2 separate regions of the Homo sapiens genome follow, and region 1 is linked to region 2. Evidence: fine-mapped expression QTL. A gene starts in region 2. The other region holds a variant in brackets. All regions are shown on one strand. Distances are from middle to middle. Region 1 has its middle 34 kb from the start of FTH1. Region 2 holds the start of FTH1 (ferritin heavy chain 1).

What was found. PIP is the estimated chance that this variant, and not a neighbour inherited with it, causes the effect.
Region 1: its variant is the best candidate, but not a certain one, in a credible set for the expression of FTH1 in NK cells (Gilchrist 2021, PIP 0.68).

Annotation. Positions count from the first base shown.
Region 1 is chr11:61,993,600-62,009,803 of GRCh38, reverse strand. No RefSeq gene overlaps it. Among named protein-coding and RNA genes, the nearest start is that of FTH1, 34 kb to the right of the region's middle. RefSeq lists an enhancer at 8,315-9,067. The variant C/T (reference allele first, on the strand shown) is at 7,462.
Region 2 is chr11:61,964,019-61,978,759 of GRCh38, reverse strand. It overlaps FTH1 (ferritin heavy chain 1), which reads left to right and starts at 11,126. Exons shown (of 4, transcript NM_002032.3): 1 at 11,126-11,448; 2 at 13,245-13,391; 3 at 13,648-13,773; 4 at 13,869-14,475. The coding sequence starts at 11,335. The coding sequence ends at 14,033. BEST1 (bestrophin 1) reads right to left here. Exons shown (of 11, transcript NM_004183.4): 11 at 14,299-14,656. The coding sequence ends at 14,638. LOC399900 (a long non-coding RNA gene) reads right to left here and starts at 11,466. Exons shown (of 1, transcript NR_187560.1): 1 at 9,881-11,466. RefSeq lists silencers at 163-379, 10,780-11,129, 11,400-11,599, enhancers at 6,641-6,785, 6,589-6,883, 10,020-10,069, 10,190-10,259, 12,891-13,120 and 1 more and cis regulatory regions at 6,708-6,718, 6,638-7,149, 6,395-7,154.

The DNA of each region.
Region 1 (16,204 bases), 30 kb before region 2:
CTGCCACCATGCCTGGCTAATTTTTGTATTTTTAGTAGAAATGGGGTTTTGCTATGTTGGCCAGGCTGGTCTTGAACTCCTGGCCTCAGGTGATCCACCCACTTCAGCCTCCCCAAAGTGCTGGGATTACAGGCGTGAGCCACCGCGCCCGGCTAATGTTTTATTATTTATAGAGACGATGTCTAGCTGTGTTGCCCAGGCTGGTCTCAAATTCCTGGACTCACACAATCCTCTTGCCTTGGCCTCCCAAAGTGCTGAGATTACAAGTGTGAGCCACCACAGCCAACCAACTTTTTCTTTTATATTGAGGCAAAATTCACATCCCATAAAATTTACCATTTTGGCCGGGCGCAGTGGTTCACGCCTGTAATCCCAGCACTTTGGGAGGCCGAGGCGGGCAGATCACGAGGTCAGGAGATCAAGACCATCCTGGCTAACATGGTGAAACCCCGTCTCTAGTAAAAATACAAAAACATTAGCCAGGCGTGGTGGTGGGCGCCTGTGGTCCCAGCTACTCGGGAGGCTGAGGCAGGAGAATGGTGTGAACCTGGGGGGTGGAGCTTGCAGTGAGCCGAGATCACACCACTGCACTCCAGCCTGGGTGACAGAGCGAGACTCCGACTCAAAAAAAAAAAAAAAATTTTTTTACCATTTTAACCAAAGTGTAGAATTCATTTTAAAGTGTAAAATTTATACATTCAAAATGTTGTGCAACCATCACCACCATCTCATTCCAGAACATTTTTATCTCCCCAAAAGGAAACTCCATACCCATTAAGCAGTGACTGCCATTGTCCCTTCTCTCCAGTTCCCCAGCAACCACTACTCTGCTGTCTCTATGGATTTGCCTATTCTGGACATTTCTTTTTTTTTTTTCTTTTTTTTTTGAGACAGAGTCTCGCACTGTCACCCCAGCTGGAGTGCAGTGGTGTGATCTCGGCTCACCGCAAGCTCTGCCTCCCGGGTTCACGCCATTCTCCTGCCTCAGCCTCCCAAGTAGCTGGGACTACAGGTGCCCACCACCACACCCAGCTAATTTTTTGTATTTTTAGTAGAGACGGGGTTTCACCGTGTTAGCCAGGATGGTCTCGATCTTCTGACCTCCTGATCCACCCGCTTCGGCCTCCCAAAGCACTCGGATTACAGGTGTGAGCCACTGCGCCCAGCCTGGACATTTCATATAAATGGAATCATATGATATGTGGGCTGTTGTGTCTGGCATCTTGCATAGTTTCCAAGATTCATCCATGTGGTAGCATCTATCAATACTTCATTATTTTATGGTTGAAGAAAACTCCATGAAATGAATAAATATAGCATATTTTGTTTACCCAATCACCAGTTGATGGGCATTTGGGTTGCTTCAAACCTTTGGGTATTACACATAATGCTACTATGAACATTCAAGTACCAGTTTCTGTTTTCACTTCTTTTGGGTATATACCTAAGAGTGAAATTGCTGGGTCATATGGTAATTCCACAGTTAAGTGTTCGAAGACTGCCAAAAAGTTTTCTACAATAGCTGTACCATTTTACCAGCAATGTATGAAGTTTCCAATTTCTCCACATCCTCACCAACACTTGTTATTTTCAGTGTTTTTAGTTATAGCCATCCTAGTGGGTAGGGAGTGGTATCTCATTGTGGTTTTTTTTTTTTTTTTTCAAGACGGGGTCTTGCTCTGTTGTCAGTCTGGAGTGGCACGATCTCGGCTCACTGCAACCTCTGCCTCCTGGATTCAAGTGATTCTCCTGCCTCAGCCTCCCGAGTAGCTGAGACTACAGGTGCGTGCCACAACGCCCAGCTAATTTTTGTATTTTTAGTAGAGACGGGGTTTCACCATGTTGGCCAGAATGGTCTGGATCTTTTGACCTTGTGACCTGCCCACCTCAGCCTCCCAATGTGCTGGGATTACAGGCATGAGCCGCCACATCCAGCCCTCATTGTGATTTTTATTTGCATTTCCCTAATGACTGATGATGTTGAGGACCATGTTTATTGACCATTTGCAGATCTTTTGCGGAGAAATGTACAATCAAGTCCTTTGCTCATTTGTTTGTTTGTTTTTTGAATTGTTGAGTTCTAACAGTTCTTTACGTATTCTGGATCCTAGACTCTTATCAGATATATGACTTGCAAATATTTTTCCCATTTTTGGGTTATTGCTTCACTTTCATGATAGTGGTCTTTGATGCACAAAAGTTTTAGATACCAATGAAGTCCACTTTTTCTTTTGTTACTTGCTTGTGCTTTTGGTGTCATATCTAAGAATCCATAGCCAAATCCAAGGTCATGAAGACTTAGCCCTATGTTTTCTTCTATGAGTTTGGTAGTTTTTAGCTCTTACATTTAGATATTTGATCCATTTTGAGTAAATTTTGTACATAGTATGAGGTAAGGGTCCAACTTCTTTCTTTTGAACATGGATATCCAGTTGTTCCAGCCTGTTCCAGCTCCATTTATTGAATGACTGTGGCCCCTCCAACTTTTTTTTTTTTTTTAGATGAAATCTCGCTCTGTCACCCAGGCTGGGGTGCAGTGGCGCATTCTCGGCTCACTGCAGACTCCACCTCTCGGGTTCAAATGATTCTCCTGCTCAGCCTCCCAAGTAGCTGGAATTACAGGCACCTGCCACCACACCGAATAATTTTTGTATTTTTAGTAGAGATGGGCTTTCACCATGTTGGCCAGGCTGGTCTCAAACTCCTGATCTCAGGTGATCCACCCTTCTCAGTCTCCCAAAGTGCTGGGATGACAGGCGTGAGTCACCGTGCCTGGCCTGTGGCACCCTTTTTGAAAGTTAATTGACCTTACGTGTATAGGTTTATTTCTAGACTCTAAGTTGTACCTCATTGATCTACACCATTAATTTCTAAGGCATTGGAGAAAGAGGCAAATGAACACAGGTCCAACTCTTTAGAGAAACAAATTTAATAAAGCAAAACACTCTTCTCCCTGGACTACATTGGCCTGGGCAGAATATTTGGGGTTCATGATAGATTTTCAGTCAAAATATCTTATCTAAATTTTTTTTTTTTTTGAGACTGGGTCTCATTCTGTTGCCCAAGCTGGAGGGCAGTGGCATGATTGCAGCTCACTGTAGACTCAGTCTCCCGGGATCAAGCGATCCCTTTACCTCAGCCTCCCAAGCAGCTGGGAGTATAGGCATAAGCACCACATTCAGCCTTATCTGAACTTTGAACATTGGTATGACCTTGGTTCCTTTTTCTTTGGAGACGAAGTCTCGCTCGTCGCCCAGGCTGGAGAGCAGTGGCACGATCTCGACTCACTGCAACCTCCATCTCCCGGGTTCAAGCAGTTCTCCTGCCTCAGCCTCCCAAGTAGCTGGGACTATGGGTGCGTGCCATCACAGCCGCCTAATTTTTTTTTTTTTTGAGACCCAGTCTTGCTTTGTTGCCCAGGTTGGAGTGCAGTGGTGAGATCTCTGCTCACTGCAAGCTCCGCCTCCCGGGTTCACACCATTCCTCTGCCTCAGCCTCCCAAGTAACTGGGACTATAGGCGCCCACCACCATGCCCAGCTAATTTTTTGTGTTTTTAATAGAGACGGGGCTTCACCATGTTAGCCAGGATGGTCTCGATCTCCTGACCTCGTGAACCACCCGCCTCGGCCTTCCGAAGGGCTGGCATTACAGGCGTGAGCCACTGTGCCCGGCCAATTTTTTGTATTTTTAGTAGAGACGGGGTTTCACCATATTGGCCAGGCTTGCCTTGAACTCCTGACCTCAGGTGATCCACCTGCCTCAGCCTCCCAAAGTGCTGGGATTACAGGCGTGAGCCACTGCATCAAGCCCCTTGGTTCCTATTTTATTCCCAGAAGAGAAACTCTTCTGGGGAGGTGGCCATCCACACGCTGAAAAATGGCTTCTCCTTTTTAATCTTAACCAACTGTCCAAGTCAGAGAAACACAAATTCACGCTGTAAAGTCTTGGCCTAGGAGTCACTTCCCCTGGGGAAGCTGGTAGCCCCCCATCTTGTCAGTGCCCTTCCTATCAACCCCTCAGTAAGCTCTCCTAAAAGAAAAAGGCTGTGAGTCCAATTATATGGTTTGTGGGAGAGAAAAACCCTTGGTCCCCTGGGTGGTAGCAAATGGAGGACACTTAAAGGCTGGCAGTTGGTGTCTGGGGAACAGTCTGGATCTCCTATACTCCACGACCTACAGATTGCAGGCAGCTGGTCAGGTGGAGTCAGGCAGTCAGTTCTCCCATCCCCCGTCCCAACCCCCGACATCATGGGACAGAAAAAGCTGGCACCCGTGGGTGGGAAGAATTTCAGAGAGAAAGAGGGAGATTGAGCAGAAGAGGGAGGCTGCTTGCAGCCCTGAATAACATCTTTCTTTGCATATTTTCTTCCTCCAGAACAGTTTGGAGGCACAGTCCAGCTGCTGCCTTGGCTTTTGATCAGAATGATTACCCACAGGCCCATCCTTTCTTAGCACTGTTAGAGAACAGAGAGATGGCACTGGCTTCCAAAGTGTCCCGCGGGTGTCTTTTCTGCCTTTTTCTATCCTTCCATCCATTCCTGTGGGTTCTCGGGCAGCTGCTCATTTGAAAGAGAGGAGAGAGACATTTTTTTGTTTGTTTGTTTTGAGACGGAGTCTCGCTCTGTTGCCAGGCTGGAGTGCAGTGGCACGATCTCGGCTCACTGTAACCTCCGCTTCCCAGGTTCAAGCGATTCTCCTGCCTCAACCTCCCGAGTGGCTGGGACTACAGGCACATGCTACCACCATGCCCAGCTAATTTTTGTATTTTTAGTAGAGATAGGGTTTCACCACGTTCGCCAGGCTGGTCTCGATCTCCTGGCCTTGTGATCTGCCTGCCTTGGCCTCCCAAAGTGCTGGGATTACAGGTGTGAGCCACTGCGCCCAGCTGAGAGACATTTTTTAAGAGCAAAATCCATGCATGGCCAGGCCTCGGAATCTTTCTAAGGCCTCCTAGACTCTCAGGGGACCCACCATGGCAGTGGCACTGACATGCAGCCCAGGGTTGTGGTCCAAGGAGGGCTTATGAGCTGACTCAGAGGAAGTAAGCTTGTTCTTGGCTGCAGGGCAAGACTAGCCATGGAGGTGGGCTCTGGCCAGCTGGTCTGATATTCTTGCTGGTCCTGACTTTCATTTCCTCTGGAAATCCCGCACACTTGACCACAGAGGCTTTTGCAATATGTGTGTATCCTAATTCCCCTGGGGTTTTTCTCTTTTTGTTTTCTGAGGAGTGGGTCCACTTCAGTAAAATTACACACAAAGTTGGAGCTTTCTGTTCCAGGAAGGCAAAGGTTACAATTCTAGCAAGCCTAACACCCAAAAACACAAAACGCTGAAACCAGGAGAATGAGTTAGAAAATATGTATCCATGGCCAGGCGCAGTGGCACACGCCTGTAATCCCAGCACTTTGGGAGGCCAAGGCGGGTGGATCACGAGGTCAGGAGTTCAAGACCAGCCTGGCCAAGATGGTGAAACCCCGTCTCTACTAAAAATACAAAAAAATTATCCAGGCGTGGTGGCGCATGCCTGTAATCCCAGCTACTCCAGAGGCTGAGGCAGAGAATTGCTTAAACCTGGAGGGGCAGAGGTTGCAGTGAGCCGAGATCGTGCCACTGCACTCCAGCCTGGGCGACAGAGCGAGACTCCGTCTAAAAAAAAAAAAAAAAGAAAATTTGTACCCTGGCAGGTCACGGTGGCTCACACCTGTAATCCCAGCACTTTGGGAGGCTGAGGAGGGTGGATCACCTGAGGTCAGGAGTTCGAGACCAGCCTGGCCAACATGGTGAAACCCCGTCTCTACTAAAAATACAAAAATTAGCTGGGCGTGGTGGCAGGCACCTGTAATCACAGCTACGCAGGAGGCTGAGGCAGGAGAATAGCTTGAACCCGGAAGGTGGAGGTTGCAGTGAGCCGAAATTGCTCCACTGCACTCCAGCCTGGGCGACAAGAGCAAGACTCCATCCAAAAAAAAAAAAAAGAAGGCGAGGCGCAGTGGCTCGCGCCTGTAATCCCAGCACTTTGGGAGGCCGAGGCAGGTGGATCACCTGAGGTCAGGAGTTCGAGACCACCCTGGCCAACATGGTGAAACCCCATCTCTACTAAAAATACAAAAAATTAGCTGGGTAGGGTGGCAGGCACATGTAATCCCAGCTACTTGGGAGGCTGAGGCAAGAGAATTGCTTGATCCCGGGAAGCAGAGGTTGCAGTGAGCCAAGATCGCGCCACTGCACTCCAGCCTGTATGACAAGAGCGAGACTATCTCAAACAAAACAAAACAAAACAAAAAAAACAGAAACCTAGCTCCTTCAGCCTGTTCCCACCTGTGTCACTTACTTTTAAAGTTCTGCAAGCCATGTGGGCCCACCCACTTTTTCCAGCCTGGGGTTCCCTGGGTTCTAGCCCCATGCAGACAGAGAACTTCCGACGGACTTGTTCACAGGGGCTGGGAGTCTTCCGGTTTAAGTAAAGGATGGTGGCAGAGGTGCATCTTCTGCCCCAGAAACATCTCGGCTGAAGGAGACTCCATCTGCCTGGCCCAGCGTAGGGAGAATATCAGCCCATTGTTGGTGAAGGTGTTTCCAGGGACAGGGACAGTGGGCTGCCTCTTTCTCCAGCGATCTCCCCTCAGGGGCATATGTGAAGAGGAAAGCTGAAGAAAGAAAAGGCCAACTCGTCCTCTTGGCTCAACTTGTCTCTCCAAGTCATCTTCTTCCTCACTCCATCCAAACCCAAGTACCATCCACCCATCCAATAGATAATGACTGAACATCCCCAGGTGCCAGACACCCTTCTAGGTACTGGGATACGGCAGTGATGATGACAGTAAGGCCCAATGACTCTCAGAAAGTTCACACTATAGTCAGTGGAGGCTGGAAAGGGTCAGTATATTCCACGGAAATAGTGTTAACTACAAGAAAGCAAAACCAGTAATGGCATAGAGAGGGACTGAGTCTTGGGGAGATGAACTCCTTTGCGGAGGGGTCAGGGAAGGCTGCTAGGAGCTGACTCTCCAGCTGAGCCCTCCATTCTGAGAAGAGGCCAGCCCAGGAGAGATTAAGGGAAGAGCATCCGGGCAGAGAGAACAGCGAATATGGAAGTCCTGAGGGGCATCGAAAATGCCGGAATCTGGAGGTCCAGGGAGCACTCTGGAAAATCTCTTGGATTGTTATCCCTCTCATCTGGTTACTCGCGGGGATGCTCATGGAAGCAGGAAATCTTTCCTGTCTGCATAAAGTGTATACACATTTACATGGAGCGTTGGCCAAGCATGGTGGCTCACGCCTGTAATCTCAACACTTTGGGAGGCTGAGGCGGGTGGATCCCTTGAGGTCAGGAGTTCAAGACCAGCCTGGCCAATATGGTGAAACCCTGTCTCTACCAAAACTACAGAAATTAGCCGGGAGTGGTGGTGCATGCCTATTTTCCCAGCTACTTGGGAGGTTGAAGCAGGAGAATCGCTTGAA[C/T]CCAGGAGGCAGAGGTTGCAGTGAGCTGAGATCGTGCCACTGCACTCCAGCCTGAGCAACAGAGCGAGACCCTGTCTCAAAAAATAAATGAACACATGGAGCGTCATTTTGACTAAGCAGAGCCGTCGATGGCAAGCTACACTGTCAGCAGGGACCCTTAGCTTTCACGAGGAGAGAACACAGCCTTCTGTTTTCTCTTCAGTGCCTCATGGAGTCAGACATTCCCATCACTCGCTGTACAGACTGCCTGACTCCCATGCGCCAAGGATGAGGGTGATGAAATTTCTTCTCTGGGTGAAAATGCTTCTGCTGACTTCTCTTCGTACACACAAATCTACTGAATACTTACAAACACAGTCTTTTTTGGCAAGATAGGCTCCAAACTCCTCTTCCAGCAGAGGGAACAAAGGTTTTGCTCTCTTCTTCCAGCAGATGTGGAGCCAGAGAAGGTACAGATTAACCTTGCAGTGGGCTCCCTGCCAAGGCTCCGTGCAGCCCCAAAGCCAGGCCCTTGAACTGCGGACTAAGAGGCCTGCTCCCACACTGCTAGGCCACCCACTGAGCTCAGGACAGCTTCTTTTACTTAATTGACCAGAAAGACGCTGAGGGGTCTCAGGGGTAGGCAAGACGAGCTTAGGAACTTCGAGCCCTCACCCCTCTATTCACCCCTCTCATTGTTTCCTCCAGCTGACCCTCCTGAGTTAACCCCCCACACCAGGACTGGGAGATCCAATCGACAGGTGTGGTTTTCTCTAGGAAAATAATCATGATAATGACATGCAGGGGGAGGAAAAATCACTCAACCCCCTCCCAGATCCCAGGGTGAGGGTGTTCCTGATTTCGTCACTTCCTGGGGCTTCTTGACGGTTTCTCCTTAGGGTCTTTCTAAAGGCCCTGGGGCAGCACTTTGCCACCAGCCACCGTAAGCAACACAAAGCGCGCCCAAGTCTACCTCGGGCGGGGCCTGTCTTTTCTCTGCACCGGGCGCCACTTCGGCAGGCAGGAGAGCAAGGCTGGGGAGGGGACCAGGACGGAGAGGAGGTAGGAAGCATGCCACGTGGCACAAAGGCCCAAGAAGCAGACACTGGATCCGAAGACGATGAGCAGAGTGGGAGCAGGCTGCGTCATAGCGGGGGCACTCAGAGGCTGTGGATGTTACTCCCCAGGACAGGTAGCAATGGGTTAAGGAACAGGCAGAAAGAAGGGTCCCATTCTGCTATGGACCAGCAGAGGAAGGGGCCACATCATGGTGAGTCCCCCAACCCCACCTGGACTGAGCCTCTGGTTCTCCTGGCCCAGGTGGGCGGTCCGGGAGAGCTGGTGAACATCGCCAGCCTGGTCCTGCATGTAGAGGAGTCCTGGGCTGGGGGCAGCCTGGACTTGGTCAAACCACCCAGGTAATTCTTCCTTCTGTACACAGCCGAGGGTCAGGACATGCTCCCCTAAAAACCCCGGCTTCCCATGAAAGTCTCAACAGAGGCAGAGTGGGGGCAGCTCCAGCTGCTGAGAATTCCCAGACATCATGATTTCTAAAGCCACTTTTACTCTTTAACCATGTTTGACTCTGTGACACTTGGGCTTCAAGGCCACCTCAGAGAGATAAGGAGGTATAAGGTCAGAGCTGCTAAGCAATAAACTGTGGTTTAGCAGTGGGGGCAGGGGTTGCAAAATCTAGGCAAACGATCAATGATGTTATTGTCGGGACACTCAACAGGTTACAGGGTCTTCATATCCGTCCATCCTCACAGGGACGCCAGGAGGTGAGCAGAGCAGGAATGACCTCAAGCAGATGCACATCCAGAGAGGAGGTGGGCTTCACTGCCTATGGCCCTACCCTACTCTGGGCCTTTAGGGTCTGCCTTTATTTTATTCTATTTTTTAATTTTTATTATTTATTATTTTATTTATTTATTTATTTATTTGAGACAGAGTCTTGCCCCATCACCCAGGCTGGAGTGCAGTAGTGCGATCTCGGCTCACTGCAACCTCTGCCTCCCGGGTTCAAGTCATTCTCCTGCCTCAGCCTCCCAAGTAGCGGGGACCACAGGTGCCTGCCACCACGCCTGGCTAATTTTTTTTTTTTTTTTGAGACGGACTCTTGCTCTGTGGCTCAGACTGGAGTGCAATGGTGTGATCTCAGCTCACTGCAACGTCCGCATCCCGGGCTCAAGTGATTCTCCTGCCTCAGCTTCCTGAGTAGCTGGGATTACAGGTGCCTGCCACCATGCCCAGCTAATTTTTGTATTTTTAATAGAGATGGGGTTTCACCATGTGGGCCAGGCTGGTCCTTGTAATCCACCTGCCTCGGCCTCCCAAAGTGCTGGGATTACAGACGTGAGCCACTGCACCCAGCCTATTTTTTAATTTTTTTAGAGACAGGGTCTTACTCTGTCACCCAGGCTGGAGTGCAGTGGTATGATTATGGCAACTTCGAACTCCCCAGCTCCAGCAATCCTCCCACTTCAGCCTCCTGAGTAGCTGACACTACAGGTGCACACCACTGGGCCCAGCTAGTTTTTTTGTTTGTTTGTTTTAGTAGACAAGACCTCTCCCTATGTTGCCCACGCTGGTCTCAGAACTCCTGGGCTCCAGCGATCCTCCCGCCTTGGCTTCCCAAAATGTTGGGCTTACAGACATGAGCCACTGCATCCAGCTATTTATTTTATTTTTTAAATGACACATAATTGTACATATCAGTGGGGTACATAGTGATATTTCAATATATACAATTTCTAGTGATCAGATCAGGGTAATTAGCATATCCATCTTCTCCAACATTTATCCATTGTTAGAAACAAAATGCTTGTTCCTTGGTGCCGCAAGGAGAAATCAGCATTCAGACAAAAAGTTTTCACAGCAAGGCAATTTTACTTACTGCAGAAAAGGTGCTGCTTGTCAGCAATCTTGCCACGAGACCACACTGAACAAAGAAAGACAGGAATATTTATCCCCTATGCACTGGGTCCTTACTGCTGTGTCCTATCTCCATTGGTTGGAGCTGGACCTCACAGTCTAAGTTAAACCCAGCTGGCTAACAATTTAAGACTTTCCTAAATAGGTAAAGGTAATGGAGAACAAAAGGAAAAGAGGCTTGCGAAAGGACTTAGAGAAGTAACAACATTTCCAAATAAGGAAGGGGCAAAGGCTGTGAGCTGGGACATGCCTGAGCATGCCCAGAACAAATATCTTGGTTAAAGTACAAGGACATAGAATATACTTATTCCCTTATATCTAACAGCTACGTAGGATAGGGCTTAACAAAGAGTTATTAGCAAAAAGCAAGAAGGCTTTGGAGGAAGTTAGTCTTTAAAATAAACTATTATTTCTAACATTTATTATTTATTCTTTAACAAGAAGGGAAACTTTGAAGAGGAATTTTACTTTCCACATCCATTTTTCATTTCTTTTCTTTTCTTTTTTTTTTTTCTTTTTTTTTTCTGAGACAGGGTCTCACTCTGTCACCCAGGCTGGAGTGCAGTGGTGCCATCTCAGCTCACTGCAACCTCTGCCTCCTGGTTTCAAGTGATTCTCTTGACTCAGCCTCCTGGATAGCTGGGATTACAGGCATGAGCCACTGTGCCTGGCCCACTATGTCTTAAAAGTGCTGGAGGGAAGTGGGAGCCGCGACCCTTCCAAAGGACACCTTTCATACCTTTCATACCGTGCTGCAGGCAGACAATTTATTGAAAAGCAATCTGCCCCAAAACAACCCACCAAAAATCAATTTGACAAATTCACCCTAGAGCCCCTAGGCTGGAAATGACGTCTCTCTGTCTCCACTTCAAGCCTGTCTCCCAGAAAGTATTTTTTTGTTTCTTTATAACATGACAGCTCAGCATGTCATTAAAGATTTTTCCTCGTCATTCTATTCCCCTGGCCTTCTTCTCCTCCTAGAATTTGTATTTCTAGCCAGCAGAGTTGAGACATGGGACCAATGATTTACTTAAGCAGATGTAATCGCCGGGCATGGTGGCTCACACCTGTAATCCCAGGACTTTGGAAGGCCGAGGCAGGTGGATTGCTTGAGCTCCGGAAGTTTGAGACCAACCTGGGCAACATGGCAAAACCGTGTCTCTACAAAACAAACAAACAAACAAACAAAAAAAAAACCAAAAAAGACAAAAAATCAAAAATTAGCTTGGTACGGTGGTATGTGCCTGTAGTCCCAGCTACTTGGGGGGCTGAGACAGGAGGATCACTTGAGCCTGGGAAGCAGAGGTTGCAGTGAGCCAAGATCGTGCCACTGCACTCCAGCCTGGGTGACAAAGTGAGTCCCTGTCTCAAAAGAAAAGAACACATGTGTTGAACATTGCTCAGAAAACAAGGCCATGCCTCTTTTTATGATTTTTTTTTTTTTTTGAGACGGAGTCTCGCTCTGTCGCCCAGGCTGGAGTGCAGTGGCGCGATCTTGGCTCACAGCAAGCTCCACCTCCCAGGTTCACACCATTCTCCTGCCTCAGCCTCCCGAGTAGCTGGGACTACAGGTGCCCACCACCATACCCGGTTAATTTTTTTGTATTTTTAGTAGAGACGGGGTTTCACCATATTAGCCAGCATGGTCTTGATCTCCTGACCTCGTGATCCGCCCACCTCGGCCTCCCAAAGTGCTGGGATTACAGGTGTGAGCCACTGTGCCCAGCCTTTTTATGGTATTTTTATCTTGTAGACCCACGGAGCTTCTGCTCTCATCTCCCTAAACAAGGGGCAGGAACAGAGTGCTGACTCTCTCCCCCACAGCACAGAGCATTGTGCTTGCTATGGAGTGAATTAAATATTAAGTGAATATTTATATTAATATAAATATTATATCATCTTAATATATCATCTTAATATTAAGACGAGTGGATGGGTAGGTAGCTGCATAGATGATGGTTCTGTCTTGCTTATGAAGATTAGTCATCCCTCAAGGGCCATCATTAGCCAGGATTTGATTCCCTGCAGGCCCCAGCACTGGTTCTAAATGTAGAATGTTTGGTCCTATCCATCCTTTCCCCAGGGACAGAATAGGGGTCTCCTCCTGCCAGAGGCCCCTCCAATGCCCACTCTTCTTCTCTGAAGGTCATTCTCCAGAAATGCCTCTCTATCTGCAAAGTGTGGCTTAGTAGGGATTGGCAGATCTCCCTCTCAAGACCATTTGCCTCCAAAGCTTGATCTCTGAGCCTGGAACAAAGGGCTTTGTTGTCAGGTGAAAGCCTTCCGCAGCCCTAGAGCCAGCCCCACAGCGCCTCCCGCTACAGATGCTCTGCCTGACACCCTACTATCCTGGAGAAGCTGGGAGGACATTGGCAGGGAGGGATGAATAAAATGAAGCGATCCTTCTGAAGAACACAGCATAAAATCCAGAAATTGCTCCCATGGCCTATGGAAAGCTGATGTCTGATACAGACAGCATCCCAAGTCATGGGAAAGAATGGGTGACTTTGGTAGGGCACAATGGCTTATGCCTGTAATCCCAGCACTTTGGGAGGCTGAGGCGGGTGGATCACCTGAGGTCAGGAGTTCGAGACCAGCCTGGCCAACATGGTGAAACCCCACCTCTACTAAAAATACAAAAATTAGCTGGGCCTGGTGGCATGCACCTGTAATCCCAGCTACTCGGGAGGCTGAGGCAGGAGAATCCCTTGAATCTGAGAGGTGGAGGTTGCAGTGAGCCGAGATTGTGCCATTACACTCCAGCCTGGGCGACAGAGCAAGACTCCGTCTCAAAAAAAAACAGAAAGATGGGCTGGGCGCGGTGGCTCAAGCCTGTAATCCCAGCATTTTGGGAGGCCGAGGTGGGCAGATCACGAGGTCAGGAGTTTGAGACCAGCCTGGCCAATATGGTGAAACCCTGTCTCTACTAAAAACACAAAAAATAGCCGGGCATGGTGGCAGGCGCCTGTAATCCCAGCTACTCGGGAGGCTGAGGCAGGAGAATTGCTTGAACCCGGGAGGCAGAGGTTGTATTGAGCCAGAGATTGTGCCATTGCACTCCAACCTGAGTGACAGAGTGAGACTCTGACTCAAAACAATAAATAAATAAATAAATAAATAAATAAATAAATAAATAAAAAAAACAGAAAGAATGGGTGACTTCATAGCTGGTGTCAGGATAGCAGGAGAGCCTTGTGGACTCAGAACCAGCTGGAAGCACTCCTCATGCTGTGGACCACAGTGCATTCCAAAGGGGTTGGAGATTTATTTATTTATTTATTTATTTAGCGACGAAGTCTCACTCTGTCACCCAGGTTGGAGTGCTGTGGTGCAATCTGGGCTCACTGCAACCTCTGCATCCCAGGTTCAAGCAATTCTCCTACCTTAGCCTCCCGAGTAGCTGGGATTACAGGTGCCTGCCATCACACTCGGCTAATTTTTGTATTTTTAGTAGAGACAGGGTTTCACCATGTTGGCCAGGCTGGTCTTGAACTCCTGACCTCAAGTGATCTGCCCGCCTTGGCCTCCCAAAGTGCTGGGATTACAGGTGTGAGCCACTGTGCCCGGCGGGGTTGGAGATTTAAATGTAAAGATGAAACCATACAAGTCTAACAGAAAACATGGACCAATTCTCTTATAATTTGGGAGTGAGGAAAAATTTCCTAATTCTGACTCAACACCTAGAAACAATAAGGGGAAAAGATGAACAAGTCTCAAGGAATTAAAGTTCTGTATGGAAAAAAAATTAAATGAAAATTTTAAACATATGCGAAATTAAAAAGACAAATGATAGACTGGTTTAACAAAAAACAACAACCTTACAACCTACATCACGGACAAAGGGCCAATATTCTTAGTATATGAAGAGCTCCTAATATAGATTAAAAAGGCCAACAACCTGAAAGAAAAATGCCCTAAAAATACAAACAGTTTACAGAAAAAGAAAGGCAAATATTTCAAAACTATACGGAAAGACACTCAACCTTGCTTACAGTAAAAGAAACACAAATTGCCCCAAGTAACTATTTCTTGTTGATCAGATTGGCCAAAATCCAAAAGCTTAATACTCTATACTCTCTTTTCCAAACTGTGAGAAAACCAACATTCTCACATATTCCTGGTGGGAATGCAAAATGGTACGGTCACTGTAGAAGAGAATTTGGTAATAGCTAGCAAAATTATGAGCGCATTTGCCCTTTGATCCTGCAATCCCACATCTAGGAATCTATACTAACGATACACTGCAAACAATACAAAAAGACACAGAGATATGCTGTTTATTGCAGCTCTGTTTGTAAAAACCAAAGCATGGGAAAAAGCCAAAAATCCATCAATAAGGACTTTGAGAAATAAACAATAGCACATCTACACAATGGGGTACTTTGCAGCCACAAAAAGAACAAGGAAGATCTCTACAAACTAATATAGTGTGATCCTAAGGACATCTTAGGATCTGTTTCTCTAAGAAGGAAAGATATAAACAAAAATACGTAAATACAGGGCCGGACACGGTGGCTCACACCTGTAATCCCTGCACTTTGGGAGGCTGAGACAGGGAGATCATGAGGTCAGGAGATCGAGACCAGTCTAGCTAACACGGTGAAACCCATCTCTACTAAAAATATAAAAAATTAGCCAGGCGTGGTGGCACGCAGTCTGTAGTCCCAGCTCCTCGGGAGGCTGAGGCAGGAAAATCGCTTGAACCCGGGAGGCAGAGGTTGCAGTGAGCTGAGATCACGCCACCGCACTCCAGCCTGGCGACAGAGCGAGACTCTGTCTTAAAAAAATAAAAGTAAATACTTTCTTATAATTAAATACCAAACATTGATAGTTTAACAGAAAGAAAGAATACAGTGGGGGGAGAATAGACACAAGATCCACTTATTTATTTATTTATTTATTTATTTTTGAGACAGGGTCTTGCTCTGTCACCCATGCAGTAGCATCGTAATAGCTCACTGCAGCCTTAAAATCCTGGGCTTAAGCGGTCCTTCCACCTCAGCCTCCCATGTAGCTAGGACAACAGGCATGCACCACCACATTTAGCTTTTTTTAATACAAAATTTTTAATTGTTGTACAGATGGGGTCTTGCTACATTGCCCAGGCTGGTCTTGAACTCCTGAGCTCAAGTGATCCTCCCCACTTCAGCCTCCCAAAGTGCTGGGACTACAGGCATGAGCCACCATTCCCAGCCTAGATCCTTTTAAATATATCTTATTTTACACATTTGACTTTGACCATGCACATATTTTACATAATTATAAAACTAAATTAAACTTTTAAAAGCAATTCTAAAAATTGAAAGCAAAATGAAGTAAATGCTCCTAACTGTGTAATGGGTTGAATGGGTTGGTAGCAAAAACACAGAGAGGAGCTCTTCCAAAGGAGCTTTAAAGTACATTCATTTGACTGTATATTCCTCGTGGGATTTACTATACGAAGAAAACTACAAGATCAAAATATTAAGCTGTTTTCAATAATAATTGTTTAGTGGTAGTATAGGGATTATTACTTTAACACTGCTGTGTATGTCGTGGAGAAAAATATAAATAAATAATTCTGTAATTATACTTAATTCTGTAATTGTACTTGAGAACAGATATTTGGGGCATTAGAAGAAAGACAATTCGGATGTAAAATCTTTAAGATGAGGCCGGGTGCGGTGGCTCACTCCTGTAATCCCAGCACTTTGGGAGGCCGAGGCAGGCGGATCACGAGGTCAGGAGATTGAGATCATCCTGGCTAAAATGGTGAAACCCCGTCTCTACTAAAAATACAAAAAATTAGGTGGGCGTGGTGGCAGGCGCCTGTAGTCCCAGCTACTCGGGA
Region 2 (14,741 bases):
GTGTGGGAGTCAGAAGGCCTAGGTTTTGGTCCTTGGCTCAGCCACCGACTTTCCCTGTAACCCTGATCTGGTCACCCCAAATCCCCAGCCCCAGATATCATTTTCTTCATCTAACCCAAGGACTGGCATAGAGCTGGCATTTAAAAATGTTTGAAGCCAAGTGCAGTGGCTCAGGCCTGTAATCCCAAGCTTTGGGGAGGCTGAGGCAGGAGGATCTTTGGAGGTCAGGAGTTTGGGACCAGCCTGGGCAATATAGTGAGACCCCATCAAAAATTGCTCTAATTAGCCAGGTGTAGTGGCATGCACCTGTAATCCCAGCTACTCAGGAGGCTGAGGTGGGAGGACTACTTGAGCCCAGGAGTTGGTGGCTGCAGTGAGCTACGATCGTGCTACTGCACTCCAGCCTCGGTGACAGAGTTGAGACCCTGTCTCTATTTTTAAAAAAATAATAACAAAATAAAAACATTAGTTGAGTGATTGAAAGTATTAGATAGTCTCAAAGGCTCCTTCCTGTCTTGAAAATTCTGAGACCCATGCAGGAATCAGTTGCCATTTAGATGATGTAAAACAGTGGTCCCCAGCCTTTTTGACACCAGGCACCGGTTTTGTGGAAGACAATTTTTTCCATGGACAAGGGGTGGGGGAGGGAGATGGTTTCAGGATGAAACTGTTCCACCTCAGATCATCAGGCATTAGTTAGGTTCTCATAAGGAGCGCACAACCTAGATCCCTGTCACGTGCAGTTCACCGTAGGGTTCACACTCCTATGAGAAGCTAATGCCACTGCTGATCTGACAGGAGGCAGAGCTGGGATAACCAGCAGGCAGAGCTTGGAGGTAATGTTCATTCACCCACTGCTCACCTCCTGCCATGCAGCCTGGAGGTGCACAGTCTATGCACCTTCGGTACCAGTCTATGGACCAGGGGTTGGGGACCCCTGATATAAAAGGTAAGTTGACTGAAAAATCTGTTGCAAGTAAAACAAAACATGTCTATCCCTGAATCTAGGGATGGAGGCAGTTCCAATTATAGCACATCACAGAGGTTGGAGGGAGGGAAATAGTTCCCCAGAGGAAAATCTGGATCTAGTGTCCAGAAGACAGGTGGATATTGGGGAGTAGGTATGGATCTGGAGAAATCAATTCCAGAAAAAAGCAAAAAGCAAAACATCCGGATTCCTGCCACTACACATACACACCCCTGTCCACCCACATACACACCCACGATATTGAAAGGGCAGCTGGATAGGTGAGTAAATAGTGGGGAAAAACGAGAGCCACTTGGTTCCAACTAATGCTTTCAAAGAATTACAAAAGGCAGGGATGTTTGACAGGGGGTTAGCATATCATCCGTGCAGCTGGAAACAGATGAGAAAGGTAATAGCATGTAAAGCCCCTTCCCATGGGAAGGCTCTCCTGGCTCTGACTCAGGCCAACTGGCTTCTGAGCCATCAGAAGCTTTGTCAGAAAGGTGGGTGAGCCCTCCGCACAGAAAACCAAGGGTGGGCTAAGGCCCCAGGGGAGGAGCTGGTGTTGCCCCAGTTTGGAGGTGGGTCATCCTATGCTTCCCGGCATGTGAACAGCTTCAGCTCCAGAGGCCCCGAGACTCTTTTAGGCAAGTTTATATGGTTCTCAGATCCTACATACGAAGGAGGTACCATGAGACCCTCAGGGAAGCATCTCCCACCACTCCCTAATATGGTGTGTCTTGTGGCTGAGCAGAGGCCCCCAGCCCCTGGGAGGACCAGCCAAGCACAGTGGGAGTAATGGGGGTCTGAGGAGCCAGCCATGGTCCCTGGGAATTACATGCTCCAGAAATACCCTTAGCTCTCCCATGTGGGCCGAGACCCACTGCCCTGCTCAGAATGCCACTGGATAGCCCCAGTCTACGGGCTGCCCAGGCATCTCCTGGGCCTGCCAGCCATTAGCACCAAGTCCAGATAACTCAAGACCAAGTCCAATTCGCTAAGCCCTGCCACGAGATCCCCAAGAGTGCCATCCAAAGAACCACAAAACTCCCACCAAGCAAACAGACTTCAGTTACTAATCAAATCAGCCCATTAATTTCAAAGATCACCCGTGACAGCTTTGCTGCTGGTAGAATCACAGCAACTACTTTGAAAGCACCCTCGGCCAACTCCAGTGGCTTGAAGCCCACCGAAGTTGGGTGCTGGCTCGCCTTCAGGATTCAGGGCTGCAGGAAGTGCTCTCCACCTGCAGGGATATTTCAGAAGCCTCAGCAAGTGGAATCTTGGAGCTCTTCTTCCTGCATGCTTCGAGATTAAGGGTAATGTATGTGCTGAGTTTAAGAATTGCCGTCATGGCTGTGTCAGGGCACCAGATTCAGAAAATTGCACCACAATCAGAGTCCAGATTCTGGTCAGAGCCCTGTCTCTTACCAGCTGCGCAATCTTAGGCAAGGCCGTCTCTTAACCTCTCTGACTTCCAGTTTCCTCACTGGATAAAGGAAACCTCTGCTGCCAGCACGGGCTACCTGCCCTACCTACTCAGAGGTGCTGTCAGTGTCAGCCCCGAAGGTGTCAACTTACTTTATGTAAAAATCTGTTATTTTATGGAATGAAAACTCCAACAATGCACTGGCCCACCGCCAGGAAGGATAGGACATTGTTTTGTAGTAGCAAGCTGATTTTTATACCAACCCTTCTTGCTTTCCTCCCACATTGGTCCCTAGTGACAGCCCACAGATTCCTCCAGTTGAGGAAACACTCTGTGGCCACAAAAGCAAGCCACAGGAATTGGTCCTCAGAGCCACAGAGCCTGTGACTGTGACATCTCCATCCCCATGGCCGCGCTGGTCCCAGCCCCGACTGCCTCACAGTGTCTTCAGGTCTCTGCCTAGGAATAATCCTGAAACCCCAGAAAGACTCACCAATTCCCAGCATCTTCCATACGGGAGGTAGAAACAGCTGGTAGTCTTAATTAAGTAAAGATGGAAAAACCAAACCTGGCCGGGCCCAGTGGCTCACGCCAGCATTTTGGGAGGCTGAGGTGGGCGGATTGTTTGAGGCCGCACTTCGAGACCAGCATGAGCAAAATGGCAAAACCCTGTTCTACTAAAAATACAACAATTCGCTGGGCATGGTGGTGCATGCCTGTAATCCCAGTTACTCAGGAGGCTGAGGTAGGAGAATCACTTGAACCCGGGAGGCAGAGGTTGTAGTGAGCTGAGATGGCCCCACTGCACTCCAGCCTAGGTAACACAGCAAGACTGTCAAAAAAACAAAAAACCTATGAGGCACGGGGTAGTGGTGGGGCAGCCTAACGCTCAGCAACAGGAAAGATGAATAAGAGTTGGGCTAAGAGCTAAGTCCAAGTTAAATCCAGCCCATATTTGTCGGTAGTCTGGGAGCCTGTGAAACTGTGAGTACTTTGCCAGGTGCTGAGGTGGGAAAGGCAAAGGCATGGCCAAGATAAACAGGGCAGAGGTTCCCTTGCTGTGGGGGAGGTGGGTATGGAGCAGGTCACTGTAATACTGCGTGGCAGTGGAGACCACGCGCTCGGAGTGCTGGAGGGCACAAAGAATGGAAATTCTCAGCTCTGCGGGGCAGTGCAGGGAGCTTTGGGAGCATATTTGAGCCCGGTGTTGAAGGCTGGGTACTTTTTCATGCAGAAGAGTGAGGGGCAGGCCGTCTGGGCAGATCAAACAGCTGTGCCAAGTCCCAAGGTGTGAGGGGAACCCTGGAGGGCTAGAGAGAAGCCTGGGGGTGAGTGGCTGGGCCATACCCTGGAATTACAATTATATCCCAAGGGCAGTGGAGAGCACTTAAGGAGTTTTATTTTATTTTTTATTTTTTTTAGAGACAAGGTTTGGCTCTGTCGCCCAGGCTGGAGTGCAGTGGCACAATCATTGCTGACTGCAGCTTCGAATTCCTGGGCTCAAGCAATCCTCCTCCCTCAGCCTCCTGAATAGCTGGGACTACAGGCCTGTGCCATCATACCCGGCTAATTTTTGTGTTTTTTTTTTTTTGGAGAGAGAGGGACTTGCTATGTCACCCAGGCTGGTCTCAAACTCCTGGGCTCAAGCAATCCTCTTCCCTCAGCCTCCTGAATAGCTGGGACTACAGGCCTGTGCCATCATACCCGGCTAATTTTTGTGTTTTTTTTTGGAGAGAGAGGGACTTGCTATGTCACCCAGGCTGGTCTCAAACTCCTGGGCTCAAGCAATCCTCCTCCCTCAGCCTCCTGAATAGCTGGGACTACAGGCCTGTGCCATCATACCTGGCTAATTTTTGTGTTTTTTTTTTGGAGAGAGAGGGACTTGCTATGTCACCCAGGCTGGTCTCAAACTCCTGGGCTCAAGCAATCCTCCTCCCTCAGCCTCCTGAATAGCTGGGACTACAGGCCTGTGCCATCATACCCGGCTAATTTTTGTGTTTTTTTTGGAGAGAGAGGGACTTGCTATGTCACCCAGGCTGGTCTCAAACTCCTGGGCTCAAGCAATCAACCCACCTCGGCCTCCAAAGTACTGGGATTACAGGTGTGAGCCACTGTACCGGCCTCCTTTAAGGAGTTGTAATCACAAAGTGCTTATCTTTGTATTTCATAATGCTGGGACAGACAGAAAAGAGACAAATTAGAGAGAGTGGGACTGCAGGAGGTGGTAGAGGCAGGAAATAGGGAGCCTGGGACAGTGGGAACAGCCACAGGCTGGAGGGAGGCCTCATCCATGCTGAGGGTGAGATCTTTGGGGTCCTGACCCTCTCATAGGACACTCAGGATTTCCCTCTGCTGACCGAGGCCCCATCTGCTGGCCCAGCAAGACTCACTAGCTCTCCTGGATTGTGCCCCTTCTCTGGGGGCAGGAAAGCCCTAGCCGCTCTTTCCGGCTGCTTCATTCTGCTGCCTCCCAGCTGGGTTAGTCCCTGGCTGCTGATCTCTCAGATCCTCTTGATCCCTACTCCCTCCGACCCGGTGCTCAAGGGACTGTGCTGTGCAGCCATCGTTCCCCTCCACCATAGTGAGTGTCTACACAGTGAAAACTCCTGAGGCATAGTTCCCATTTCCATGAGGAGGCACTCCCAGCCCCTGGCTGCCAAGGCCTCTGGCTGCTGAGGTCCCTGCCCAGACTTGCAAGACATTTTTCTGTTTTTTCATCCTCCTCCCAAGGCTGCTAGCCATGGCTCCCACCTGTCACCTGCGCTGAGCTGGGCCTCCCCTGATTTGGCCAGGGTGAGCACAGCTGAGCCTGGATGGGGTGATGTGGGGATGCCATGTGGCTGGGTCCCAGCTGACGGGGTGCAACGGGAACTGTGGTAAAGAGGGCGCCCAGAGCGGGTACTCAAGGTAGCATGGGAGAGGGCTGGCTTCAGATACCATAAATAATACAGGAATCAAAGTTCAGAGAGGCCACGTGGCCTCTTCACTGTGTGCATATCCCAGGGGCTCACTGGGAAGGATACAGCTGGGGACTGTTAAAGGCAAGACCCTTGATCTCCAGGAGCCGCTAGTCCAAAGGTAGAGAGCCGATGCTCTGCTGGGCATGACCATTCCAGAGAAGAGGTACAGAGCTGCAAACTGCTACAACTGGAGGGACCCCCGGGCTGTGCCAGGGTTGGGGACACAGCTTAAAACTTCAAAGTCCAGCCAGGAGGTAAACACATAGCTAGGGCATGTGATAGGGTCTCTGGCAGAAGTCTGGAGTGCAGTGAGGCCTGAGTTAGCATTCAAAAATGGGCCTTGCCTTCCATTCACAGTTGTCCTCAAACATCGCAGGCTGTGGCTCTCGTTAACCTTCTGGAAGCGGGGGATTCCAAGTACCTAGACTCTGAGTTTACATGGCCTCAAGGGTTTTCAAGAAATGATTTCAGGACAAGCTCTGTGAGTATGATTGCATCATCCAGAAATGTACCCAAATACTGATTTAGTATTGTTTTTCCTTTGGTCTGAATTTCAAAACTCGAATTTCCTGCTTTACTTCACTTCACTTCAGGGGAAATCCCAGACATTTAAAACATCAGCTCTTCAGTTAAAATACCACGTAACCCATTCTCTCCCAATCCTCATCTATGTCTCCAGCCCTGAGGTTTTTCTTTGTTGCAATCAGCCTGTGGAACGGTTTGGGGTCTGGCCTTTTCACATAGCATTCCTGCACACACACATTCCAGCAACACACTTATTAAACACACTTACTGTATTTAATGGCCATGCGGGGTTCCATCATGTGCCCTGTCCTAGTTTTCAGCTTGTGTTTCAGCCAGTGACTCTACGGCTTTGGGCAAGCCTAACCTTTTTTGGGTCTCACCTTATCTGTAAAACATGATGATTTGGAAGCTCTAACGTCCTTTCCAAAGCCTTAAAATTTGTGGGGGGTCTATGATTTCCTAGCTGTGGATCCTAAATTGTGACTACACAATAACAATCCCTAGAAGAGAAAGGGACCCAACATCTATTGAGAATTCCCCATGCGGCGGGAAGGCACTGAGCGAGGGATAGGTAGGAAAAGTGACACCTAGGCTTGCCAGCAAAAACACCATCAGAGGCCCCCCTGAGTGATCTCAGACCCCTTTGTTCCCAGTCCGGCCTCTGGACTTTGTCCCATTAGGAAATGGGGGGAGGGGGACACTCTCCCTCCCTCCCTCCCTCCCTCCCTCCCTCCCTCCACAGTGAAGCCACAGCCCTCCAGGTCTTATGACTGCTCTTCTCCTCCATGACAAAGCACTTTTTGAGCCCAAGCCCAGCCTAGCAGAGTGCTGAGTCACGGTGGGACAGCAACTCTCCACCGCAACCCCCACCACCGCCCCCTCCTGCTCCAGGATGTGCTGAACCTCCAGAAACCACCGGCTTGGCTCTTCTCTCATCTGAGGTCCCTCCCGCCACTCCTGGCCCTGGGAGGCGGCTGTCCTGGGAGACCAGCCAAACTCTCTGCTGCCTCCAAGTCACGAGGAGCTGAGCTGGAGGGTGGGGGAGGTAGAACCCTGGTCAACAAAGGTCCCAAGACCAGGCCACAGCTTCGGAAGAATCTAAAGGCTTAGACATTGCAGTTCTGACACCTCAAGTTACCAGAAAGTAGGGAACGGACACAAGCAATCATATAAACAATCATAAACACACACACACACTCACACTCCCCCACCAATAGATTTCCCTTCCATTGTTCCCAGCCAGCCTCCTCCCAATGACCTTCTACAGCACAAGCTGTCCCTCAGTCTTGCTGCGATGTTCACTGCAGCTACATGCATGTTTAGCCAAGCATGGAGCCAACACTGATTCAGGAAACCTACTCCCTGCAGCAGACCGACTTCCCTCCAGTGGGTCCGAGAGCTTCATGCTGGCTTTGTCCCCCTGGACATCCCGGAAGCCTGGAAACTCAGCACATCTAGTCCAAAACCAAGCAGGCCTTCCCCAAGGGCTTTCCCCGAAACCTTCATTTCCTCCTGTGCTCCTTGGCTCAGGGAATGGCAGCAGCAGCCAGGCCTACCAAATCATAAAGCTGAGAGATCTCTTACACACTGCCCACCCCTGGCCCCCGACTTTCGCCAATCAGTCTGTTCATTTGATCTTCTCCAGATCTGTCAAATCTGTGTTCTATCTTCTCTGCTCACTAATAACTAAGGCTGCTGCCTCCTGACTGGTGCCCAGCCCTCTAGCCTCACTCTCATCCATCCTCCACATTCAATCATGAATCCATCTGTTCATGCAACAGATACTGGGCACCAAGTAACAAGCAATTTGCAAAAAGCTGGGAGTGCAGAGACAAGACAGAAACAATGCCTGCCTTCCAGGAGCTTACCATCTACAGCACCAGCGCAGGCAATCAAAAGGGTCTCATAAGGCCAGGTGCGGTGGGTCATGCCTGTAATCCCAGCACTTTGGGAGGCCGAGGCAGGTGGATCACTTGAGGTCAGGAGTTCGAGACCAGCCTGGCCAACATGGTGAAACCCCGTCTCTATTAAAAACACAAAAATCAGCCAGGTGTGGTGGTAGGCACCTGTAGTCCCAGCTACTTGGGAGGCTGTGGCAGGAGGATCTCTTGAACCCGGGAGGTGGAGGTTGCAGTGAGCCGAGATCAAGCCACTGCACTCCAGCCTGGGCAACAAGGGCAAAACTCCATCTCAAAAAAAAAGGTGTGACACATACATAGTACTTCATTAAACATACAAATATATATTATAGTTCCTAATCTTCATCACTTACATGAGCTACAAATATCATCCCAATTTGTCATCTCTGTTTTAACCTTGTTTACAACATCTTTTGTCTTACAGCTTTTCATTTTTAAATAGGCAAACCTGCCAACTGTACTTTTACGGCTTCTGACAGCCTCAGAAGAACATTCCCTACCCCAAAATTATAAAAATAATCTTGTATATATTCTTCTCAAAACTTTATACTTTTTTTAAGGCTTGGATTTTTAATCTATCTGGAATGTATTTTTAAATACTGAGTGAGTCACTTTTCTCCACATGACTGTCAATTGTTTCAACATAATTTGTTAAACCCATTCTTTCTTCCCTAATGTGACACAACAGTTTAGCATATACCAAGTTCTCATAATAGGGGGGCAGGACTATTTTGTTGCATTAATCTAGTCATCTCTTCCTGTGCCAGTACCATACTGCTTATAGCACTTTACTGTACCTTTATTATAGCACCAAATGCAAATCTATCAACACACTGACTCCTCCAAATGAACTTTAGAATCATTTTGTGAAGTTTCAAAAAAAAAAAAAATACTGTCCCAGAGACAGTAATGGCTGAGGAAAAACAAAAACAAAAAACTGCCTCTTATGGAAATTGCAGTGAATTTATGCTTATTTGGGGAAACTGACATCTTTACAGAATGAAGATTGACCGACCATTTGGGAATATGGTACCTCTTCATTTATGCTAGGCTTTTTGAATTTTTTGTCCAGCAGTAAGCATTTATAGTTTTTTCTATATATTTCTTGTTAACTTTATTCCAAGGTACTTTAAGCTTTTGTTGTCAATGTAAGTGAAAAACATTTTTTTTTCCATTCTTTTTTCCCCATATTTTCTAACTGGTGGTTACTGTTATAAAGGAAAGCTTTGGATCCTATATATGGTGACTTTGCTATACTCTTATCCTAAGAGATTCCCAGTGTAAGGTTTCTAAAAACAAAGCTAATGAGGTGTCTCTATGCTGTCTCTAGGATCAAGTTTAACCTCTTTTTATGGAACACAACCCTGCCCGATCTTGCCCCTATTCTCCACCCTAACCAGCATCCCCCAACATAAACTGTACTTTCCAGGCCAACATTCTTTCTTTCTTTCTTTTTTTTTTTTTTTTTTGAGACGGAGTTTTGTTTTGTCTTCCAGGCTGGAGTGCAAAGGCGCGATCTCGGCTCACTGCAACCTCCGCCTCCCAGGTTCAAGCGATTCTCCTGCCTCAGCCTCCAGAATAGCTAGGATTACAGGCGCATGCCACCACGCCCGGCTAATTTTTGTATTTTCAGTAGAGAAGGGTTTAGCCATGTTAGTTAGCCAGGCTGATCTCCAACTCCGACCTCAAGTGATCCGCCCGCCTCGGCCTCCCAAAATGCTGGGATTACAGGCATGAGCCACCGCGCCCAGCCCCAGGCAACATATTTTCTTAAGGCAGCTTTAACAGGCCATGCATTTCCACATTTCCACACCTTTGCATATGCTGTTCACTCTGCTCCAAATTCCCTTCCCTGTTTCTCTCCCGCACTTCACCTTCCTTTTAACTTTTTCTTCAAACTCAGCTCACGTGTCTTGCTTAGGGAGGGCTTCCCCGACCTCCTCCTATCCCAGACTGGGTAAGGTACTCCTGGTCTAGCAGCATCCTTCTGTTTACCTTATTCTTGTAGCTCTAGCACCACTAAAACGTTTTTCCTGTAAATAACATAGGTGCATTTTTAAATGAAACCGTGAACAAGAAATCACCCTAATTCCGTCGGCAATTTATTTTAGTATTTCAGTAGAGTTGCTTTTTTAAACTAAGGTTTGGAAGTCTAGCTTCCAGCTGCAGGTTTGTGAGCATCCTGAAATTCAGTTCTTCCACCGATGCGTCAAAAGACGCGACAGAACAGTGGACCTCGAAGCCAGGACCTAGGTAAGGGCAGGGCCTAGCTCTAGCTCTGCCACCCATAAATTCACATCCACCCTGTGCCTGGGACTCAGCTTAGCCACACACACCGGCCCCACCCCTCCGGGGTCTCTTTCACCTGTCACCCGCCATTAACCCCGTCAGCTTCTCTCCAATGACACCCCAGGGTTGTCCTACAGGGCCACCGAAGCCTGAAGCTCCTGTGAGTGGGGCCGATAAGAGGCCATTTTGAAAAGTCCTCAGCATGGGCTTCGCCTTTAGATCCACGTCGTTTCTCCTTTCTAACCCGAGATGTGTCCCTTGGGTGCGAAGCGACACCAGCGATTCTCTCGGAGGCCCCGGTGGCTCACCCCCACGACTCCCCGGGGAGGCGGTCCCCATCCCTAGGGAAACCCGGCCCGCCCAGCCTTTGTTGCAGAAACCGCACACGGAGCCATATTTGCTTTCAGCCAAAGGCAGACGTGGTCGGAGGAGTCGGAAGGGCAGGGGCGGACCCGAAACCCGCCGTGCGCCCCACTTCTCCATCGCGCTCCTTCCTGGACTCTGAGGAAGAGAAAATGCGCTCGACCACCTAAGGACCGCGTCTCCACCTTCCACCTTCCCAATCATCTGCAGCTTCCCAATCTGCAGCAAGGTGTCACAAGGGCTTCTCCGCAGCTATGATTTCTAACACCATGCCCCGGGCCAGGAGCCTCAGGGTGCCCGTTCGGGAAAATGGGAGCCGAATCAGGATCACCCCATGCGCCCCCGCACCCTTCCCCCGCCGGTTCCAACGCCCGGGCGCCCCTAGACCGGGGGGGGGGTTCTGAGGTGGACTTCCTGCGCCTCCTCGCAGCTTCCCTCCAACTCCACTAAACGGGCACAGAGACGCCACCGCTGTCCCAGAGGCAGTCGGCTACCGGTCCCCGCTCCCGAGCTCCGCCAGAGCGCGCGAGGGCCTCCAGCGGCCGCCCCTCCCCCACAGCAGGGGCGGGGTCCCGCGCCCACCGGAAGGAGCGGGCTCGGGGCGGGCGGCGCTGATTGGCCGGGGCGGGCCTGACGCCGACGCGGCTATAAGAGACCACAAGCGACCCGCAGGGCCAGACGTTCTTCGCCGAGAGTCGTCGGGGTTTCCTGCTTCAACAGTGCTTGGACGGAACCCGGCGCTCGTTCCCCACCCCGGCCGGCCGCCCATAGCCAGCCCTCCGTCACCTCTTCACCGCACCCTCGGACTGCCCCAAGGCCCCCGCCGCCGCTCCAGCGCCGCGCAGCCACCGCCGCCGCCGCCGCCTCTCCTTAGTCGCCGCCATGACGACCGCGTCCACCTCGCAGGTGCGCCAGAACTACCACCAGGACTCAGAGGCCGCCATCAACCGCCAGATCAACCTGGAGCTCTACGCCTCCTACGTTTACCTGTCCATGGTGAGCGCGGGCGGGCCTAAGCGGTGGCGGGGGCCGGGCGCGGTTCCCGGGGCGCGCGCTGGGGCGGGCCGGGGGTGTGGCCACCCGCGGGCTCTCCCGCCTCCCTGCGCCCTTCTGGAAAATGGAGGCTGCTCGAGGTTTCCGAGGACTTCTCTGGCGCAGAAAGTCGGGGCAGCTGGTTCTTCTCGGCTGTACCCTGAGAATGCTCCCTCCTAGGCCAGGGCCGCCTCTGCACACCCTTCTTTTTTAAGGAGACCTTGGTGTCCTGAAATCCTGGGGTTGCAAGACTGCCAGCCTGTGTGATCAATCCTGCGGTTAGGAAGGTGGAGTTTTGCTTTCCCATCTTTTCCTCTGCCTCCGGCATTTGGCCCTAAATGCCAGCGTTTTTTGCTTAGGTATCCAGCTCCCGTCCGCCTGTGTGTGGCGGAGCTGCTGGGTAACGGTGTCGAATAGCAAACCTTGGGGGCTGGCGGGAGGTGGCTTATCTTGTGGGTAGATCCCTCTCGAGCAGCCGTATCCACCTCTCGGCTCTGCTTATCTCTAAGTCCCACTTGCTTTGAAGCATATCTCTAGGAATCGCCCCTTCTGCAGTCACCGAAGTGTCACCTGACCTTGCGCCTAGGGGACCTAATTTATCTTTTATGTATCTTACTGTAAGAGGTGTGGAGTTTGGCCTACTAATTGAACCCCCAGTTCTTGGATAAAGTCCACCGACAGTTACTGGGCAAGAAATTTTTCAGTGATCAGTGGAATCAGTTTTCCCAAATCTTGGTCTTAGGCAGTGTCGTGGGAGTCTTCCTTAGAATTGCCTTGTGATTGTCCAAACTATCCCAAGAATAAATGTGTTCCAAATGGATTTGAAAACAGGCCTGTATTTCTGTGACTGTCACTGCCTTTCACAAACACTTGACTACATCAAATGTCTAAAACTGAAAATCAAATTTTTGTGATATAACTATTATAAAAGTATGTTTACATCAACATACTGTCCACATTTGCCACCTTGCATGGGGGTTTTTAATTTGTGTGTGTGTGTGAGAGACAGAGTCTCGCTCTGTCGCCCAGGCTGGAGTGCAGTGGCGCGATCTCGGCTCACTGCAGCCTCCGCCTCCTGGGTTCAAGTGATTCTCTTACCTCAGGCTCCTGAGTAGCTGGAATTACAGGCGCACGCCACCACGCCCAGCTATTTTTTTTTATTTTTAGTAGAGACGGGGTTTCACCATGTTGACCAGGATGGTCTCGATCTGCTGACCTCGTGATCCGCCTGCCTCGGCCTCCCAAAGTGCTGGGATTACAGGCTGAGCCACCGCACCCAGCAGGGGTTTTTAATTTTATAAATAAATATGTGGTACAGCTGGCAGACTCCTGAGCTCAGTTTTAACCATGCTTTAACATGGTTAATACAGGAGCAGGGAGGAGAAAAGGACTAAGTGCAGGGTCAGTACTCCAGCGCCCTCTCATCAGACAATGAATTCTGACACTGGCTGTAAGTTTTCTGTGCAGTAATACAGATCCTTAAGACATTGCCCCAGGCAATGCCCATAATATCCTAAAGGTTCCTTGAAGTTAAGTTTCAAGGATCAAGTTTCAGTTTTCTATTTTAGAATAGAAACATTACTCTTGGGTTCAATCCAGTAGCTCATCTGCCCCCCAGTCTCCTTAGGCACTGATTCCTTCATGCTGTGCTTTGAGAAAGGAAGCCTAGGCTGACGAGACCATCTTGCCTCCCTGTAGATCGTCACAGCTACCTGTCTCTGGGGATCCCTAGTATAACACATTCAGTGTTCCCCTTTCAGTCTTACTACTTTGACCGCGATGATGTGGCTTTGAAGAACTTTGCCAAATACTTTCTTCACCAATCTCATGAGGAGAGGGAACATGCTGAGAAACTGATGAAGCTGCAGAACCAACGAGGTGGCCGAATCTTCCTTCAGGATATCAAGGTGAACAAAAGATCCTAGGGGTGTCATACTTCATCATCTGGCAGTGTTCGGGTATCAGAAATCACTTAAACTAGCAATTGCCCTTATAAAGTGATGATACACTGGGCTTTTGCCTTTTGTGCTTTTTTAGGCTTACCATCTAAACTAAATTAGGCAAATAGTAATGTCCCTTTTGCCAAAACGTGGTGGTTAGAGATGATGGGCTTGCTGACTTCTAGGTTAGTTGGTAGAGATGCATTAACCTATTCTCATTCAGAAACCAGACTGTGATGACTGGGAGAGCGGGCTGAATGCAATGGAGTGTGCATTACATTTGGAAAAAAATGTGAATCAGTCACTACTGGAACTGCACAAACTGGCCACTGACAAAAATGACCCCCATGTGAGTATTGGAACCCCAGGAAATAAATGGAGGAAATCATTTGCCTTAGGGATTGGGAAAGCTGCCCACTAACTGTCTTCCCCATTGTTTTGCAGTTGTGTGACTTCATTGAGACACATTACCTGAATGAGCAGGTGAAAGCCATCAAAGAATTGGGTGACCACGTGACCAACTTGCGCAAGATGGGAGCGCCCGAATCTGGCTTGGCGGAATATCTCTTTGACAAGCACACCCTGGGAGACAGTGATAATGAAAGCTAAGCCTCGGGCTAATTTCCCCATAGCCGTGGGGTGACTTCCCTGGTCACCAAGGCAGTGCATGCATGTTGGGGTTTCCTTTACCTTTTCTATAAGTTGTACCAAAACATCCACTTAAGTTCTTTGATTTGTACCATTCCTTCAAATAAAGAAATTTGGTACCCAGGTGTTGTCTTTGAGGTCTTGGGATGAATCAGAAATCTATCCAGGCTATCTTCCAGATTCCTTAAGTGCCGTTGTTCAGTTCTAATCACACTAATCAAAAAGAAACGAGTATTTGTATTTATTAAACTCATTAGTTTGGGCAGTATACTAAGGTGTGGCTGTCTTGGATTCAGATAGAACTAAGGGTTCCCGACTCTGAATCCAGAGTCTGAGTTAAATGTTTCCAATGGTTCAGTCTAGCTTTCACAGTTTTTATGAATAAAAGGCATTAAAGGCTGAAGTAGTCTGGGATTTTTATCTATTAAGCTAACCATTTGATTCAGGCTGTTGTAGGACATGTTCTTCAGTGTGGACAGCTGTATGGCTGTGACTGGATCAGTGTCCTGCTGGTGTACACACAGGTGAGGACCTGGCTGGCGAAGCATCCCCATTAGGAAGCAGGTTAGGAATGTGCTTCATCCCTAGTGAGAATGAAAGTATTAACAGCATAAGTATGGAAGGTCCCTTCATTTCAAATACCAAAATGTTGCAGTAGGAGGGCAAAGG